Linked DNA regions of Homo sapiens. The protein of the gene in region 1 purifies or fractionates together with the protein of each later gene. This does not show direct contact. Each region holds a gene or a part of one and is shown on either strand. Other genes may lie near its edges. The genes, in order: PTH2 and AMD1.

Region 1 (6,561 bases):
CAGACATTTAGGGGGCTGGACGTTGCCATGGAAGAGCCAGGGCTTTCATTGACCTTGGGTGGGGGACCTGTGCTTTTTTGGCTGGCGCCCTGTAGTGCCGGGAGAGACCAGGTTATGGAAAAGTGCAGGCATTCAAGGGGCAGGGCGCTCACCCGGTTCATCTCCGTCGTCCGGAAGCCGGTGATGTGCGAAGGGCCGCTGTCTAGCTGCCCGGCGGTAAAGACACCACAGCAGCACAAAGATGCCGATCAGCAGCGCGGTCCCCGCGAAGAACAGGCAGAGGGCCCCGCCTGCTGCGCCACGTGGTCGCCCCACCAGAGTCACGCCTGAAGGGGGATACCAGCAATCTAAGCTCCTAACCCCCTCCTCTCTCAGACCCAGGGGTCCAAGCTCCTAGCCCCTCCTCCCTCAGATCCAGGAATTCCTGTTCCCAAACCCTTCTCCCTCAGACCCAGGAGTCCAGACCCCAGCCGGTCCTCCCTCGCACCCAGGAGTCCAGGCCCCCAGCCCCTCCTCCCTCGGACCCAGGAGTCCAGGCCCCCAGCCCCTCCTCCCTCGCACCCAGGAGTCCAGGCCCCCAGCCCCTCCTCCCTCGGACCCAGGAGTCCAGGCCCCCAGCCCCTCCCTCAGACTCAGGAGTCCGGCTCCTGCCCCTCACCGGTCTCCTTCACTCGCTCCACCACGATGATGGTGTTGACTCCCTCACCTCGGCTGTGCCTCTGGGGTGCCCGCAGAGTGGCAGGGGCCAACTGACTGGGGCGCCCTGGAAGAGCAGGGGGACCTGCAATCCGGGCTGAGGGAGGAGGGACGTTGGACTCCTTAGGGCCAGAGTTCTGGGGGGCCTTCAGCTCAACCATTCCTGGAGAATCTGAAGTGGGCAATTTTGGGGAGTCGGGCTGGATGGCTGCAGGTGTTCCTGGTTTGGGATTCAGGGACAGCTCATTTAGAGCAGTGGCGTCATCCTTGAAGGGCACAGGTGTTTCTGGGTAGAGACTAGTGGAGATTTGAGGGTCGGAGGTCCTGGGTACATCTGTTGCATTTTGGTAGTAGGTTGTGGGGAATTCTGTTTGGGAAATTTCGGTGGGGCTGGGATTGTGGGTCACATGGGATTCTGGGTGGGGGGTTTTAGAAGGGTCAGGATGGAGAGCTTGGAGAAATTCAGAGTTTGGGGTCTCAGTGGAGTTGAGGTCATGCTTTTCTGGGGATTTGGGGTCAGGGGTCTTGGTAGGGTTAGTGTTTGAGGTCTCGGGGAGTTCTGCCTGTGAGACTTCAGTGGCATTAAGCTGCAGAATCTCTGGGGATTCTTGGGGTGTAGTTTGCATAAGGTCAGTGTTTGGGGTCTCAGGAAATTCTGGGCGTGAAGTTTTGGAGAAGTTAGGTTTGGGGGTCTCAGGGGATCCTGGGTGTGGCATTTCAGTTGGGCCAGGTGTGGGGGTCTCAGAAGACTCTGGGTGTGCCATTTTGGAGAGGTTAGTTTTGGGCATGTCCAGGGATTCTGATATTGAGGTTGTGAGTGAGTCAGCTTTGGGGGTCTCAGGAGACTCTGGGTGCGGGGTTTCTCGGAGGTCAGGGTTGAGGGGCTCAGTGAAGTCAAGTGGGAAGGTTTCCAGGGAAACCGTATGAGGTAGCTTGGAAGGCTCAGGGTAAGGAGTCCCAGGAAATTCTGGGTTAAGGCGATCTCGTTTGGAATTTTCAGAAGCACCCTTCAGAGGGGAAGTCTCAGAGGGGTGGGCCATGTCCGGAAAGCCACAGCCCAAAGGCAGAGGGGCTGAGGGAGCGGCCTTGGACCTCAGGCCGGCGAGGAGGAAGACGAGGAAGAGGATCCGGCTGAATGATTTCATAGCTCTGGCAGATACCTATAGCTGCGGGGGAGAGCGGGAAGGAAGGGGTTAAGGCCGAAGGCTCCCAGGAGCCCCGCCCACTCCCGGAGGCCACGCCCACTGGAACACAGGTGGACCACGTCTGTCCGGGGCCCAGCTTGGCGCCAGGGATGGGAAGAGAACCCAATCGCAAGTCCCTTGGAGGCTTGTGGGGCGATGGCCCAGGTAGCCAAGAGAGACTGAGGCGCGGGGCTACTTGGGAGTCGTAGTTAATTTCCTTATCTGTTTCAGCGAGGGGTCCTAGAAAAATTGGGAAAGAACGACACTTCTCCAGGCCTCAGATCTCCTCGACTTCGACTTTAGGGAGTGTCAGGGCTTCGAGGGGACGTGGGATCTCCTTCCTCTCCGAGGTCCCCCGGGACACCTTGACTCAACAGTTGTTTACACTACAGGAGGCTCCTAACGGCTGAGGGCTGGACTCATGGATTTGAGGGAGGAGGGAGACATTTGGGCTCTGGGTTAAGAAGGTTGCTGGGGGTTCAGACTCCTGCGTCTTGCAGGGTGAGGGGGCTGAGGTTCCTGGCTCCTGGTTCTTTAGAGAGGAGAAGGCTGGAAGTTCAGGTGCCTAGAATTTTGAGGGAGCAAGGTTTGGGGGCTGGATTGCAGGGGTGAAAGGAGATAAGAGGCCTTGAGCTCTTGGTTCCTGAGTTAGAAAGGAATTGGGAGCTCTGAGTCCTCCAGAAATAGGGTCTGGGGTCTGGGCTCTGCAGAGTAGAGGGGTAGGGACTTGAAGAAGAGAGCTTTGGGGCAGGACTCTCAAGTCTGTTATTGAAGATGGAGCTAGGATTTCGGCATCTCCGGGGCCAGTCTGGGCAGAGAAGCATAGGTCTGTGTTCAGGTGGAGGTGGAGGCGGCCGACACATCGATGGGACAGGCTTACTTGAGGTCCTGGGGTCTCTTACCTGCTCTGGTGTCCAAGGTAACAGCAGATAAGCAGAGCTGGATGCAGAGAACGGTGAATGTTGCAGAACAGATCTGGGCAGGGCGGTGGGAGGTAGGGTCTCAGGGGCACACAGGTGACGCACCTCACCCCCTCCCAGGGGATCCTGGGAGCCTAGCGACAGACTTAGACTCTTAAAGGGACAGAAGTAAAGGACATTTTCTCTGGGGTGGGGAAGGGAGTTAGAAACTGGATTGATCTAGTGGAGATGTGGCCCAAATTATTTTTTTGAAACCAGTGGTCCTGGCCCTCTACCCTCTCCTACCTGAAAACCCAGGGGTCTAGTTCCCTGGTACCTTCCTATTTCAAGTCCCCTAAGTTGTATCCCCCAGCTCCCTCCCCCCAGACTCAGAACTCCAGTCCTCTAGCTCCTTCCTTCCTCAGATTCAGGAATCCAAGTCCCCAGCCTCCTCCTTCCCCAGAACATAGGAATCTGGGTCCCTGTCCCATCCACTCTTAGACTCAGGAGTCCAAGCTTCTGCCACCACCTTCCTAGGAAACTAGGAGCCCAAGTTCCCACATCCCAAGTTTCTACTGCTCTGTAGGACTTCCAAGTTTTGCCCATCTTCTCCTCACTGTGTATAAAGGCCCCTCTTTTTAAATTTTTTTTTTTTTTTGAGACAGAGTCTCACTCTGTTGCCCAGGCTGGAGTGCAGTGGTGCGATCTCAGCTCACTGCAACCTCCCTCTCCCAGGTTCAAGCGATTTTCCTGCCTCAGCCTCCCAAGTAGCTGGGATTACACCACACCTAATTTATGTATTTTTGTAGAGAAGGAGTTTCGCCATGTTGGCCAGTCTGGTCTCGAACTCCTGACCTCAAGTGATCCACCCACCACGGCCTTCCAAAGTGCTGGGATTACAGGCATGAGCCACAGCACCCGGCTGAGGCCCCTCTTAAGAGTCAGTGTGGACTGGGTGTGCTGGCTCACGCCTGTAATCCCAACACTCTGGGAGGCCAAGGAGGGCAGATCACAAGGTCAGGAGTTCAAGACCAGCCTGGCCAACAGTTTGGCGAAACCCTATCTCTACTAAAAATACAAAAATTAGCTGGGCGTGATGGTGGGCACCTGTAATCCCAGCTACTCGGGAGGCTGAGGCAGGACAATGGCTTGAACCTGGGAGGTGGAGGTTGCAGTGAGCCGAGATAGTGCCATTGCACTCCAGCCTGGGCAACAAGAGCAAGACTCCATCTCAAACAGACAAACACACACACACAAAAAGAGTCAGTGTGAGGAGGACTGGGCTTTAATCTTCACAGCACCCCCAAACTCCTCCCAGATAAGGGCTTAGACACATCCTTAGGGCAGCTCAGGAGCCCTGTCTGTTTTCCCCTCTTCTCACTCTCTGAGGTTTTTCTGATGTGGTCTGTCACTTTTCCTGTCCTCACACCCCTGCCACACGTACCCTTTGCCATTTCTTGCCTTTCCCCCCTCCCTACCTCACCCTCGATCTTTCTGGGCCTCTCGCTGCTGTATTTATCTCTGGGCAGCTCCTTCCAGACCAGGACGTCCTTCCATTTCCGTCTGTCTTTCTGAGAGCCTTTTCTTTCCCTCCTCCATCTCCATCTGACTGTTCGTTTCCATCTCCTTCGCTCTCTTTTCTTGTTTTCTTCCTTTTCCTTTCTTTTTCTGTCGTTCCCATTCTTTCTCTCTATTTCTTCCTCGGCCACTCTGTCTTTGTCCTTCTCTTTGTGTCTCTGTTCCTCTGACGGTCCTTCCGCCAGTCTCTATTTTTAGCCCTCTGACACACCCCCTGTGTCCACCTCTCTGTCTGTCTGTCTCTCCCCCTCCCTCGTCTCAGGTCCAGCTTCTGGTCCCAATTAGTTGGTGGCGGCCAAGGCAGCGGCAGGTCCCCCACCCCCGGCTCCTCATTACCGCTGGCGGCTCCTAATGAGCCTGGGGAGGGGGTGACCCCGCGTCCCCGGCCCCCCGGCCTGCGTCACTGCCCGGTGCGGGGGCTGCGGAGGCGATATAAGGGGGCTGCCACCATCGCTGCCCCAGCCCACTGCACGGTAGGGGACTGTGCGGGAAGCTGGGGGTGGATGCATGGTGGGGCCCGGGGTTCTGGGCCGGGATGCAGCCCTACTGAGCCCCTTTCTGGTTCTCCACAGGTGATGGAGACCCGCCAGGTGTCCAGGAGCCCTCGGGTTCGGCTGCTGCTGCTGCTGCTGCTGCTGCTGGTGGTGCCCTGGGGCGTCCGCACTGCCTCGGGAGTCGCCCTGCCCCCGGTCGGGGTCCTCAGGTAGGTGCCAGTCCCAGAACTCCCAGGGAGGGGTGGGAACTTGGAGAAGTGGGAAGAGAACCAAAGAGAAAGGGGACGGAAGATCCAGAAAGCGGAACAGAAGCCCAAAGAGAGGGCGACCGAGACCCAGCGAGAAGACAGAGACTAGGGGTGGGGGAAGGCGGGAGGAGGGTTTGGTGGTAGTGGTGGTGCGGGAAATGGACAGAAAATCAGCAAGGGAAAGAGACACAGAAAGATAGATCCCGAGAAAGGCGTGGAGAGGCTCGAAAGGAGTCGTTGCAGAAACGGATTCATTCTTTGAGCAACGTTTATTGGGTTCTTGGTGTGCGCCTGGCCATGCGCTGAGCGCTGTGGGCGGACAAGTGCATCAGACTCGGTCTCAGTACCTGGGGAGTTTCGAACCTGGTGAGCAGAGAGACAGAGACCCACACAGAGAACGAGAGAGACAGGGGGAGCCGGACCGAGCCACTCCACGGACTGGGCAGTAACGGGGCTTCGAGTTAGACCGCGGGGAGGACAGGCGGCGGCAAGAGCGAGTCTGGACGCGCGGTCACCGCGTCTCTCCACAGCCTCCGCCCCCCAGGACGGGCCTGGGCGGATCCCGCCACCCCCAGGCCGCGGAGGAGCCTGGCGCTGGCGGACGACGCGGCCTTCCGGGAGCGCGCGCGGTTGCTGGCCGCCCTCGAGCGCCGCCACTGGCTGAACTCGTACATGCACAAGCTGCTGGTGTTGGATGCGCCCTGAGCGCGCTGCCCGTCCCCATCTTAATAAAGACCATGCCCTGCGCTCCGGACTGCGCCTAGTTCCTGCGCGACCTGCGTGTGCGTTGGGTTGGGGGCGCGGGGCTTGAAATGGGGGGTAGAAAAGAGACAGGACTCTGTGTCGGCCACTCTGGCATCTCTCTCCTCAGTCCCCACTCTATTTTCTTTCCTCAATTCCGTTTCTCTCTGCCTGTCTTTGTCCAGGAAGCTGGCTTCTTTCCTATTTCTGGATCTCTGCTTCCCTATCGCCCCCACCCCCCCGCCCCCTCCTTTCATTCTGGGCCCCTGTCCCTCCCTACCCCCATCTCTGTCCCCTTCTCTCTGGTTCTCTGTAATCTCCAAGGTCTCTGTCCTCCTCCGTCTCTGTCCCTTTCTCTGGGTCTCTTTCCTCTCTGGGTATGTGTCCCCGTCTCCCTGGGTCCTTGTGGTTATCTCCCCTTTCACCCTTTTGGCTTTCTGGTCTTCTGGGAATCTCTGCCTCCTCTCTCTATTCTCCTTCTGCCTCTGAAACTCTTCCTTCCCTTCTCCATCACTTTCTTTTTTCCTTTTTCCTCTGCCTGACTCCTTCATATCTTCCTTTTCTTTCCTCCGTTAGGTTTCTATCTGTCTCTCCATCAGCTCTCATCTTTGAATTTCGCTGTTCCTCCCTCCCATCACTTCCAGACTTCTCCCCAGGCACAGTGGAAAGATCGCGGGCTCTGGTGTGAGGCAGCCCTAGCATCCAAACCCAGGGTCCTCCA
Region 2 (4,716 bases), on another chromosome or scaffold:
TTTGCACAAAGTCGCTCATAAGCATGAAAATTGAACTTAGCACATCTACTAATATGAAACCAAACCAGGCTAATCAGAGTGTTGGGTATTTACTGCAAATACCCGCCAAGTCAGTCGATCCTGCTTATCTGGGAATTTACCTACTGTTTCCATTCCTTTCACTGATGACATTTCTTTTTTCTTGAGATGGCGTCTCGCTTTGTCACCCAGGCTGGAGTGGAGTGGCGTGATCTTGGCTCACTGCAACCTCCGCCTCCCGGGTTCAAGCAGTTCTCCTGCCTCAGCCTCCCAAGTAGCTGGGATTATAGGCATGTGCCAACACGCCCAGCTACTTTTTGTATTTTTAGTAGCGATGGGGTTTCATCATGTTGGCCAGGCTCGAACTCTTGACCTCAAGCCCACCTCTGCCTCCCTGCCAAAAGGGGTGGGATTATAGACATGAGCTACTATGCCCAGTCCACTGATGGATGACATTTCTAATAAGTGGCAAATAGTATCATTCTGCTTATTGTGGAAGGGTAGTAACAAACCATCCTATTAAATGGATGTGTTATATTTATTTTGCGTTCTCTTCCCTCAACAGATGGAGCAGCATATTGTATGGGACGTATGAATTCTGACTGTTGGTATGTTTAATGCAATTTTGTGGATTTTTGTTGTCCTATGTAAGATTTAAACTGCCAATTGTCATTTTTAGGAACTATTTTTAATTTTTATTTAGGTACTTATATACTCTGGATTTCCCAGAGAGTCGGGTAATCAGTCAGCCAGATCAAACCTTGGAAATTCTGATGAGTGAGCTTGACCCAGCAGTTATGGACCAGTTCTACATGAAAGATGGTGTTACTGCAAAGGATGTCACTCGTGTAAGCATTTTTAGTAATAATTGTTGCTGGACTCTTCTGCGTGGGGACTAAATTTTATTTTTCATTCTGTAACTTTTAAGTTCAGGGTAACAAGTGCTAGTTTGTTACATAGGTAAACTTGTGTCATGGGGGTTTGTCGTACACAGTATTTCGTCACCCAGGTGTTAAGCCTAGTACCCATTAGTTATTTTTCCTGGTCCTCTCCCTTCTCCCACCCTGGGACTAAATTTTGGACTCAATTGAAGTTTATTTGTCAAACCCTTGTTAAACTCGGTCTTTTTCCCCCCCCAGGAGAGTGGAATTCGTGACCTGATACCAGGTTCTGTCATTGATGCCACAATGTTCAATCCTTGTGGGTATTCGATGAATGGAATGAAATCGGATGTGAGTAGTTATATATTGCTTCAATAATTATTTAAATGTGAATAGTCTTTCCATTCTTAACACTGTGAACTTTTTCTCTCAGGGAACTTATTGGACTATTCACATCACTCCAGAACCAGAATTTTCTTATGTTAGCTTTGAAACAAACTTAAGTCAGACCTCCTATGATGACCTGATCAGGAAAGTTGTAGAAGTCTTCAAGCCAGGAAAATTTGTGACCACCTTGTTTGTTAATCAGGTAATTTTATATTTTATTATTAATCAGGTTATTTGATTTTTAAAATCTTAAAGGAAATGAGACAGTGAGGCCTAAGATGTATTCTGAGATAGCACATATACCAGCCACTCAGATATCCAGAAGTAATATTGTTTGAGGTTACTGGTAGCTGAGAAGCTTTGTTTCATTAGACCTGTGTCAGTCCTTGTTTTCTGTCTAGCCAAACTGATGGGTTCCTCCTGTCTTGCTATTGACAGGCCTCTGGTGGGAGGAACCATAAGATGCCCTGGCCCCTCCAGCACATAAGAAGGCAGCTAAAATAACTCAGATGTCTTAGTTTCATTAAGATAAAAGTCTGTCACTTAACTGTTTTGGTTGAAAATACTTCTCTGGATTGCAAACACTAACGGTTATTTAATTTTTTCCCCCAGAGTTCTAAATGTCGCACAGTGCTTGCTTCGCCCCAGAAGATTGAAGGTTTTAAGCGTCTTGATTGCCAGAGTGCTATGTTCAATGATTACAATTTTGTTTTTACCAGTTTTGCTAAGAAGCAGCAACAACAGCAGAGTTGATTAAGAAAAATGAAGAAAAAACGCAAAAAGAGAACACATGTAGAAGGTGGTGGATGCTTTCTAGATGTCGATGCTGGGGGCAGTGCTTTCCATAACCACCACTGTGTAGTTGCAGAAAGCCCTAGATGTAATGATAGTGTAATCATTTTGAATTGTATGCATTATTATATCAAGGAGTTAGATATCTTGCATGAATGCTCTCTTCTGTGTTTAGGTATTCTCTGCCACTCTTGCTGTGAAATTGAAGTGCATGTAGAAAAAACCTTTTACTATATGAAACTTTACAACACTTGTGAAAGCAACTCAATTTGGTTTATGCACAGTGTAATATTTCTCCAAGTATCATCCAAAATTCCCCACAGACAAGGCTTTCGTCCTCATTAGGTGTTGGCCTCAGCCTAACCCTCTAGGACTGTTCTATTAAATTGCTGCCAGAATTTTACATCCAGTTACCTCCACTTTCTAGAACATATTCTTTACTAATGTTATTGAAACCAATTTCTACTTCATACTGATGTTTTTGGAAACAGCAATTAAAGTTTTTCTTCCATGAGTTGAGTCCTTAAGAAAATGATTCCAGTTACTCATTTTGCATATTTGCTATTTTAACATTATTGGACCCTGCATTTATAGTCCTTTGATTTCTTCCCTCTCCCTGGTGTCTCCCCCAAGACCCCAAATAAAGCAATACACTGTTAACACTGTGGGTTTATATACTAATTCTATACCCCAGATGGGGAATGGGGGAGATGGTCCCTGGGCTTAATATTCTTTAAAGGGCATGGGAATTTAGCCTCTCTTTTATTGTAATGTGCTCTTTTGGAAAATAGTTGGTTAGCAGGGAAGACCCAGAGTTGTAGATTGAGATTAGGGTGTACTGGCTGAACTGTGGAAAACATACAATTCTGTGTTCCTCAGTAAATGAGATTAGCGTCTAATGAGTAGCACCCCTTTACTAACTTAGTAGTAGTATAAAATCATTTTTATTTAGTTAATTACCAGAGAGATTTAGCATAATTTTGTTCTGGATTCAGTAAATCAAGTCAGCTTGGATCATTCACCTTAACTTTTCCTTTAGCAGCCATTTCCACTAGTTTCCATTAAGTAGTGTTCTATAAACTTTGATCCAAAGCAGAATCAATGTCTTTTCCATCTCGTGACTTAAAGTTCTGTGACTGTGATGCATGTGAGTGTTCCGACTTCATCTGTTCCTCTTAACTACGGTGTTTCCCTTACCATGGCATTCATAGGATGAAATGAATGACTGCCCAGAATGAGAATTTGTCCAGATTATTCAGATAAACATCATAAAGCAGAATACATTATAAATAAGTAGAATATGAATAAATAGAATAATAAAATTCCAAAATACTCAATGGGAAATGACTAGTAATATAGGCTTTCAAGAGTTGGTACCTTTTAGCTATATTTGCAGATTCTCTGGGATTTTAAGGAACTGAGAAAACAGCAAAGTTGACTAAATTTTATATTTCTTGTCCTCTAAATATTTTGATAATTTCTGGATTGATGCAGTGATGTTTTTGTTCCTTCCGTATTTATAAATGAAACACCTTTTTTTAGTGTTTCTAAACCTAAAATCTACTTGGTTTGAAATCAAGTGGTTGGAACACTGTTTGACTTTTATTTGAAGCATGTTGTTGATTGAAAATTTCATTGAGGAAGTTTTCAATCAGTGTGATCAGTTTGATTCTGTAATGAGCACAGCACCTAATATTTTGAGGAGCTCTGTTTTGAGGACCAATGCTTAAGGTGGACTTTGTTCGTAAACAATATCCCAATAGATTTGTTGACTTGAGGTCTGGTTTGGTTTTGTTTTTGTTTTGTTTTGTTTTGTTTTGTTTCCAATAGAATTAAGAATTCTAATGTTGAAAAACTGCACAAATTTTTATGGGACAAAGCCTAGAAAAGAGAAATGTAGTTTGAATCATAATCTAAATCATCGTATGATAGAAGAGGGAAAGTTTTGGTGCCATAATTTCTCCTTTCACTGGTGTTGGACTTAAATCAGTTGAAATGTATTTCTGTACCACAATTTACGCTTCAATAAAAGTTTAATTGTCTAGTGACATTCAGAAACTTTTCTGTTGCCCTGTTTTTTAAGTAGCCTACTTGACCAAATACTACATGTCTGAAGTTTAAAATCAATACAACAATGTGTATTTATGAGTTTGGAGTTAGACAGAAGTTTAAAAGTGTTAGGTCCCAACCTTTATTATAGACTAGACTCTTAAAACATTGGTTGAGGATGATCAAACTCAAATAAGTTTCCTTATTTCATTCATGGTTATTTCTATTAAGTAGAAAAAAATTTATAACCTTGATCATTTTCTTTATTTTTTTTAATTTAGGATCTTGTTCTGTTGTCTAGGCTGGAGTGCCGTGGCTGTTAACAGGTGCGATCATAGCATACTGCTTCCTTGAACTCCTAGGCTCAAGCAGTCTTGCTGCAGCTTCCCAAGTAGCTGGGAATGCAGGGTTCTGCCATCACACTTGGCTTTGTCATTTTCTTTATTTGGCAACATTTTAGTTCCACAGTCAAATATGTAATAAGCTGAAAAATCTTATGAAAATGTATATTCTGATCTTTCTCAGAATATGCTTCCGTTAGAAAATATTTCCTCAATTTTCATTAAAAACAGATGGTGTTCCTAGAAAA

Evidence for each region.
Region 2: the proteins of PTH2 (region 1) and AMD1 purify together in Homo sapiens (affinity purification with mass spectrometry; 2 studies listed by BioGRID and IntAct, with this or other methods). This does not show direct contact.

The regions. Positions count from the first base shown.
Region 1 is NC_000019.10:49,421,711-49,428,271, reverse strand, and holds PTH2 (tuberoinfundibular peptide of 39 residues preproprotein), read left to right. Parts: upstream 1-4,830; 5' UTR 4,831-4,932; coding exon 4,933-5,060; intron 5,061-5,629; coding exon 5,630-5,804; 3' UTR 5,805-5,853; downstream 5,854-6,561. Other genes in the region: GFY (Golgi-associated olfactory signaling regulator precursor), read right to left, coding at 153-326, 659-1,841. UniProt on the Homo sapiens protein: Plays a role as a potent and selective agonist of PTH2R resulting in adenyl cyclase activation and intracellular calcium levels elevation. Induces protein kinase C beta activation, recruitment of beta-arrestin and PTH2R internalization.
Region 2 is NC_000006.12:110,891,578-110,896,293, forward strand, and holds the end of AMD1 (S-adenosylmethionine decarboxylase proenzyme), read left to right. Parts: intron 1-583; coding exon 584-626; intron 627-721; coding exon 722-866; intron 867-1,157; coding exon 1,158-1,250; intron 1,251-1,332; coding exon 1,333-1,488; intron 1,489-1,898; coding exon 1,899-2,039; 3' UTR 2,040-4,136; downstream 4,137-4,716.